Linked DNA regions of Homo sapiens. The protein of the gene in region 1 purifies or fractionates together with the protein of each later gene. This does not show direct contact. Each region holds a gene or a part of one and is shown on either strand. Other genes may lie near its edges.

Evidence for each region.
Region 2: the proteins of USB1 (region 1) and AQR purify together in Homo sapiens (affinity purification with mass spectrometry; 3 studies listed by BioGRID and IntAct, with this or other methods). This does not show direct contact.

Annotation. Positions count from the first base shown.
Region 1 is NC_000016.10:58,007,712-58,011,406, forward strand, and holds part of USB1 (U6 snRNA phosphodiesterase 1), read left to right. Parts: intron 1-2,217; coding exon 2,218-2,401; intron 2,402-3,306; coding exon of another isoform or gene 3,307-3,418; exon of another isoform or gene 3,419-3,695. UniProt on the Homo sapiens protein: 3'-5' RNA exonuclease that trims the 3' end of oligo(U) and oligo(A) tracts of the pre-U6 small nuclear RNA (snRNA) molecule, leading to the formation of a mature U6 snRNA 3' end-terminated with a 2',3'-cyclic phosphate.
Region 2 is NC_000015.10:34,903,548-34,907,418, reverse strand, and holds part of AQR (RNA helicase aquarius), read left to right. Parts: intron 1-706; coding exon 707-874; intron 875-2,913; coding exon 2,914-3,083; intron 3,084-3,871.

The DNA of each region.
Region 1 (3,695 bases):
GTGCAGTGGCTTACGCCTATCATCCAGCACTTTGGGAGGCCAACACGGGCAGATTGCCTGAGTTTGAGACCAGCCTGGGCAACATGGTGAAACCCTGTCTTTACTAAAAAAATACAAAAAAATTAGCCATGCTTGGTGGCGGGTGCCTGTAATCCCAGCTACTCGGGAGACTGAGGCAGGAGAATCGCTTGAACCTGGGAGGCGGAGATTGCAGTGAACCAAGATTGCACCACCGTACTCCATCCTGGGCAAAAGAGTGAGACTCTGTCTCAAAAAAAAAATAATAATAATTCAATTTGTTTAATAGATTTAGGCCTATTTAGATTATTTCTTCTTTTGTGAGTTTTAGCAGATCGGGTCTTTCAAGGAATTGTTCCAGTTCATCTAGGTTATCAAATTTGTGGACATAAAGTTATTCATGGTATTCTTTGATTATCCTTTTATTATCCATGGGATCTGTAATGATGTCCCATCTTTCATTCCTGATTTTAGTAATTTGTGTGCCCTCTCTATTTTTCTTAGTTAGCCTGGCTAGAAACTTGTTGATTTACTGATCTTTTCAAACAACCAGCTTTTGGTTTTATTGATTTTCTTTATTGATTTCTTGTCTTCAATTTTATTGATTTCTGCTCTAATTTTAATTATTTCTTTACTTCTGCTTACTTTGGATTAAATTTGCTGTTGTTTTTCTACTTTCCTAAGATGAAACTCAGATGATTGACTTTAGATCTTTTTCTTTTTCTTTTTTTTTTTTTTTTTTGTGAGGGAGCCTCGATCCGTCACCCAGGCTGGAGTACAGTGGCGCAATCTCAGCTCACTGCAACTTCCGCCTCCCAGGTTCAAGTGGTTCTCCTGTCTCAGCCTCCCAAGTAGCTAGGACTATAGGCACGCACCACCGTGCCCAGTTATTTTTGTATTTTTAGTAGAGACGGGGTGTCACCATATTGGTCAGGCTGGTCTCGAACTCCTGACCTCCAGTGATCCACCTGCCTCTGCCTCCCAAAGTGCTGGAATTACAGGCGTGAGCCACCATACCCGGCCTAGATCTTCTTTTCTAATATATGCATTTGATGCTATAAATATTCTTCTAAGCACCTTTTGCTGCATTCCACAAGTTTTGATAAGTTATGTTTTCATTTTTATTTTGTTCAAAATATTTATAAAGTTTTCTGGAGATTTCTTCTTTGATCCGTGTGTTATTTAGAAGTGTGTTTTTTAATCTCCAAGTATTTGGGGATTTTCCAGCTACATTTCTGTTACAGACTTTTAGTCTAATTTCATTGTGGCCTGAGATCAGACATTGTATGGTTTCTAGTCTTTTATATTTAAGGGGTTCTGATGCTTACTATTTTTCTTCAGATTGTATTTTTGCCCTTTAGTATGTCTTGTAATTTTTCCTCGATAGCTGGACATGAAGTACTATGTAAAAGGAACTGTGGTAAACAGGCCTGTATGAATGTGGTGGTGAGGTGGTGGGGGACAAGAATCCTTCTGTAGTCCTGTGATTGGGTGTCAATCTTTTGGTGAGCCGGTTCCTCTGGACTGGGAACTTCCCACACGCTTCTCAGAATTTTCCCCTTCCTAGGTGGGACAGGATGACCAGAAGGTGCTGCAGTTTGGTATTTCACTTCCCCTAGGTCAGTTAAGAGTCTGATAAAACACTTTCAGGTTAGGCTGTAATTCAGTAAGTTTCTCCTGAGGGTAGACCTTGTTAAGAAAAACTGGAGGCTGGGCGCAGTGGCTCACGCCTGTAATCCCAGCACTTTGGGAGGCCGAGGCGGGCGGATCACGAGGTCAGGAGATCGAGACCATCCTGGCTAACACGGTGAAACCCCGTCTCTACTAAAAATACAAAAAAAAAATATTATCCAGGCGTGGTGGCGGGCGCCCGTAGTCCCAGCTACTCGGGAGGCTGAGGCAGGAGAATGGCATGAACCCGGGAAACGGAGCTTGCAGTGAGCCGAGATTGCACCACTGCACTCCAGCCTGGGCGGCAGAGCAAGACTCCTTCTCAAAAAAAAAAAAATAATAATAAATAAATAAATAAATAAATGAAAATAAAATTATATTAGAAGACATAGACATAGGCTGCTGTCCAAGTAATTTTCTCCCCAAACCCAGAGTAATAAGGACTTCCCTCTGCCTTCTGGGCTTCTTCATTCAGCCATGGCACCTTGGCTGAGAGAACGGCCCGCCCTCTTTACTCCTCCCCTCCAGATGAAGCCAAGGAGGAGTTCCTGGATCTGCTTGATGTGTTGCTGCCCCATGCCCAGACATATGTCCCCCGGCTGGTAAGGATGAAGGTGTTCCACCTCAGCCTGTCCCAGAGTGTGGTTCTGCGCCACCACTGGATCCTCCCCTTCGTGCAGGCTCTGAAAGCCCGTATGACCTCCTTCCACAGGTGAGTGCTTCTTCCCTCTGCCTCTCCACTCCCTCCCCTCCATGGCTTCTCCTCCTCTCCTGAGCTACTGCGGGCATTACCCCAGCAGGCAGGCAGACCTAAAGATAGAACACGGCCCCTCTCCTGGGGCTGCCTGCTCTACTTCTCATCCTCCGTGACCTTGGGCATGCCGTGGAAGCTCTTGACACCCCTGATGCCGTATCTGCTCTGTAGGAAAAGCCAGCTGTTTTTCTGTAAGCTCTTGCTCAGTACTTCCAGCACTTCTGTGACCAGATGTGTTGAGTTTTTTTCCACACCAACAAATTATCCAACTCTCCAGACACCCACTGGGTGTCCTATAATCGAACTCAATTCTGACACTAATAACCCAGGGTTAGTGCAGACTTCATAGGTTAAGGACTCAGTCCCACAAGACTGCGCTCCTTGTCAGACACCATCTGCAGTGTTGAGCTCTCAGGTTACCCACAACATCTGTCTGATTTCACTACAAATCAGAGGTTCTGTGGACCCTCTCCTCAGGTTTGATCATTTGCTAGAATGGCTCACAGAATTCAGGCAAACAGTCCACTTACTAGGGCGCCAGTTTATTACAAAGGATATGTTACAGGATACACATGAACAGCCAGATGAAGAGATAGGTAGGGTGAGGTCTGGAAGGGTCCCGAGCATGGGAGCTTCTGACCCTGTGGAGTTGGGAGTGAGCCACCCTCCCAGCACATGGGTGCGTTCTTAATCACCAAGGGAAGCTCCTCAAACCCTGTAGTTCCAAATTTTTACGGAGGCTTCATCACATAGGCATGATGGATTATTAACTCAGTCTCTAGCTTCCCTCCCATACCGGGAGGGTAGGGGGTGGGGCTGAAAGTTCCCAGCTTCTAATCATGCCTTGCTCTTTCTGTGATCAGCCCCCATCCAGGACCTCATTGCCTCATTGGAACCAAAGATGCCCCTGTCACCCAGGAAATTCCAAAGGATTTAGGAGCTCTGCGTCAGGAGCCAGGATCACAGACCAGATAATAGAACAAAAGATGCTCCTAGCACCCCTGCTGCTTAGGAAATGACACAGGTTTTAGGATCTCTGTGTCAGGAACTGGAGGCTGAGACCAACACATATGTTATCATTTCACAGTGATAGGTCAAACAGGTCATGGTAATGGTGGGAGCTACCTCACTGGGGGCCTATGGGGGTGAAAGGAGATCATGGGTGCCCTCAGCACACCACTTGGGTGAAGGGTTAGTACCAGACCCCACTTCTGGTTTTGTCTGCCAGCCTGGGGCTTTTTTTTTCCCCTTA
Region 2 (3,871 bases), on another chromosome or scaffold:
TGTGAGGTCTAATTTTATAATCCTTGTCTTCCAGTTTCTCTACTTTTAATAGAGCTGGGAAGCCATTTGAGTTCTTTATTGGGTCTAGTGACCAAGAAGCTGTGGACTCTGGCACAAGTCTCCTTTTTCTTGACATTCACTTATAAAAATGTTCACGATTTGCCAACTGAAACTGTATATATTCAGCCATCTTTCTCAAGATCATACCTGTAAACAATACTTTTTTGCCTTGATTAATTATTCTTGAGTTGACCTGTTTTAGTGAAATACAATTAGGCTGTCTTTGGAATGACACTGATAGATAGTTTAAACTGATATTAAAAACCTGCTAAATATGCTATAGATGGATTATATGCCAGCCATATTTTTGGTTACTTATTAAGATTGTTAAAAATAAGAATGATGACGAACATCCAATTTTGGAGCTGTAGCATGACTTGGAGGGCTTATTCAGTAATATATTCATGGCATGAATGTTTCTAATTTTAATATAAAGAAGTTTTCATTTCAATTAATGCTATGAAATATTGAGTATTAAAGATTATAGAAAAGCCCATAATTGTGTTACAATGCGATAATAATCATTGGTCACTCAACGGTATCTCTCTACCAAAGATAAGAGGTAGAGAGGCAAATAAGAATTTGCCTACAAAAGACTGAAAACAATGAAATTCTAATAAATGAAAATGTCTTTATATCTTACCAGGTCTTCGTAAGCATGATGTATGCTTTTTAATTACCGTACGTCCCACAAAACCTTATGGCACTAAGTTTGACCGGAGGAGACCTTTTATTGAGCAGGTTGGCCTGGTTTATGTCAGAGGCTGTGAAATTCAGGGCATGCTGGATGATAAAGGACGTGTCATTGAAGATGGTATGGTGACCTATATTTTTGAAAGAGTATGTGTATAGAATGATAAATTTCTTTGCCTTTTTCCCTTTTTGCTTCTTAGGTAATATTTTTTAGTTCTTTTACCTACTAAATTGACACAAAGGATTTTGTATCAAATATGTGTAGGGTACCTACCGTGCAGTTTTAGATATAGGTAACATGGTTTCTCACTGTGTCACACAGGCTGGAGTTCAGTGGCACAATCTCGGCTCACTGCAACCTCTGCCTCCTGGGTTCATGCGATTCTCCAGCCTCAGCCCTGCTAGTAGCTGGGACCATAGGCACGTGCGACCATGCCCGGTTAATTTTTGTAGAGATGGGGTTTCCCCATGTTGCCCAGGCTGGTCTCAAACTCCTGAGATCAAGCACTCCACTTGCCTCGGCCTCCCAAAGTGCTGGGATTACAGACATGAGCCGCCACCACACCCAGACAGTTTCAGAACTTCTATGTTAGATATTGGAAAGGACAGGATCTTTTTCTTTTTTTCCCCCCAAGACGGAGTTTTGCTCTGTCAACCAGGCTGGAGTGCAGTGGCGCGATCTTGGCCCACTGCAACCTCTGCCTCCCAAGTTCAAGCAATTCTGCCTCAGCCACCCCAGTAGCTGGGATTACAGGTGCCTGCCACCGCGCCTGGCTAATTTTTGTATTTTTAGTAGAGACAGAGTTTCACCATGTTGGCCAGGCTGGTCTCGAACTCTGGGACAGGATCTTTTGAAATCATCTTTATTCAAAGCTTTTTAAAATATGTAATACTTTACCATATTTTTTTTAAGAAACACTCTAAATATCTCTTACAGTTGTCCAAGCTTTTTTGTGTTCAATGATATATTTTTTCTTCTTAAATTTGACTATTTTAATTCATTGTAGTGGTGGTTCTTAATTGGGAACAATACTGTCCTGCGTTTGAAAATGCATAGTGATATTTAGGTTTTCAAATGACCGGGATAGAGGTGAGGAATGGCAGGCTCTTGGCATTAGGTAACTGTGAGCCAAGGATGCTAAACATCTGAACAGAAATAAAAGAAGGAATTATCCTGCATAAGATGCCAACTTTACCGCATTTAAAAACACTGCTTTACAAAATTAGTCAGTTATTTGATTTCTTATGTGTATCACTTATTATCCCTTTGAAATTCTTTCTTCTGTTGTCCTGACTTCCTTTATAATACTTATTATTAAATTACAACTGCATACATGTCTAGTGCTTATTTTACAATTTGGTTGTTGTACTTCTTTTGAAACTTTAGTCAGTTTATGCTATCTGTGGTTTAGAGATTATATCATTGCTAAACTGCTGATGATTAAGTTATTTATCTCTAGAATGAGAGGAAATAGGAGAAGGGAATGGAAAATGGATGGAATAAGCATAAGGCCACATAATGGAACCAAAGTTCGAGGTCTAAGACCCCCCCTTCCCCCCACCCCCCCCAAAAAAGAGGAGATATGTCAGAGAGGAAAGAAAAGGCTCTGGGCTTTCAACCATTAGTATCCTACATTTCTGTGTATGTGAAATTTCTTTTCATGCTGGTTATACTAGGTATGGAATGTGGAAGGATGAGAAAAGTGATGAACCTCTGTCAAATTAAGGAATTAATGAATAGAAAACTATGCCTTAAATTCTAAAATACATATATTTAATTAGAAAATATTTATTGAATACTTACTATATGTAAGGCAGTAGTGGGAGCTATGAGTGACAAAAGTAAAGATAAGTTCTTTGACTTCTAAGTACTCCTATTTTAGTTGAGTGTGTGTACAAATTATTGCAAGTCATGGTGTTGCATCGTAAACATTACATGACTGCTATGGAAGGAAATAGTAAGAATTTAGAGAAAGAAGAAAATACTTTCAGCATCTTAGAATTTGAAGTGGGTGAGTGGAGGGCATTCTACTTTGGGAAGAATGGTTGGAGTTAAGCCTGAACCATTTACTCACCATTTCTAGAAAAGAAATACTGTTAACTTATTTTGATATTTGAAAAATACATATTTTATTTAACAAACTTTTTCAAATTGTCCAGGACCTGAACCCAGACCCAATCTTAGAGGAGAATCAAGGACATTTAGAGTGTTTTTGGATCCAAACCAGTATCAACAAGATATGACCAATACTATACAAAATGGAGCAGAGGATGTGTATGAAACTTTTAATATAATAATGAGGAGAAAACCAAAGGAAAATAACTTTAAGGTAATTTGGGGGTATGTAACTAAAAGTACTATGTCATAATTTAAGTAACTTTTATGACATAAATACAGAGATATTTGGTTAGAGGAAGATTTGTTAAGAAAAAAATAATGACTGCTTTTATTTTTACTATAAGCAATCCTCTTAAACTTTTAACAAAATGATGAAATATAAAAATTTAAAGAAATTGATTTCTTAAATCTATTTTGTCTTTTGAGGAGTTTAAAAACTTAAAATATAGATGAATCCAAGTGTTATTCTAAAGGTCCACCTCCTTTTTTGCTTTTTGTATATTAGGTATTCAGTTAATGCCCTATTATGAAGTGAAGAAAACTTGCTTACTTGTTTACTGGGGCTTCTTTTTTGAATCAAAAGTAGGTATACTTCCAGGTCACTTTAAGAATACAGATATGGAATCTCAAGGCTCTGAATTACTATACGTTATAATATATTTTTACTCATTAGTAGGAAAGGGAGGTTTGGTGGCTCAAAGTTCTACTTTTAGAATAACTTTGTGGGGAGAAGAGTTTTAGTAAAGGATAGTTTTAAAAACCATTATTTGAAACTATATTATAAAACTTAAACATTGAACAGTTCTAGCATTTGATACATGTAGCTTTTGCAGAAAGAGTGCCTTTCTTTTCTCTTTCTCCCAAAGTGCAGTACTTCTTAGACATTCCTATCATTTTATTACTTTTATGTAACCCTGTTGTTGTGATTTTTTAAGAAAATCTTTTGAACAGCAGAACTTGTTCTTCATCTCTCCCTGTTGTTGAACACAAATGGAGATA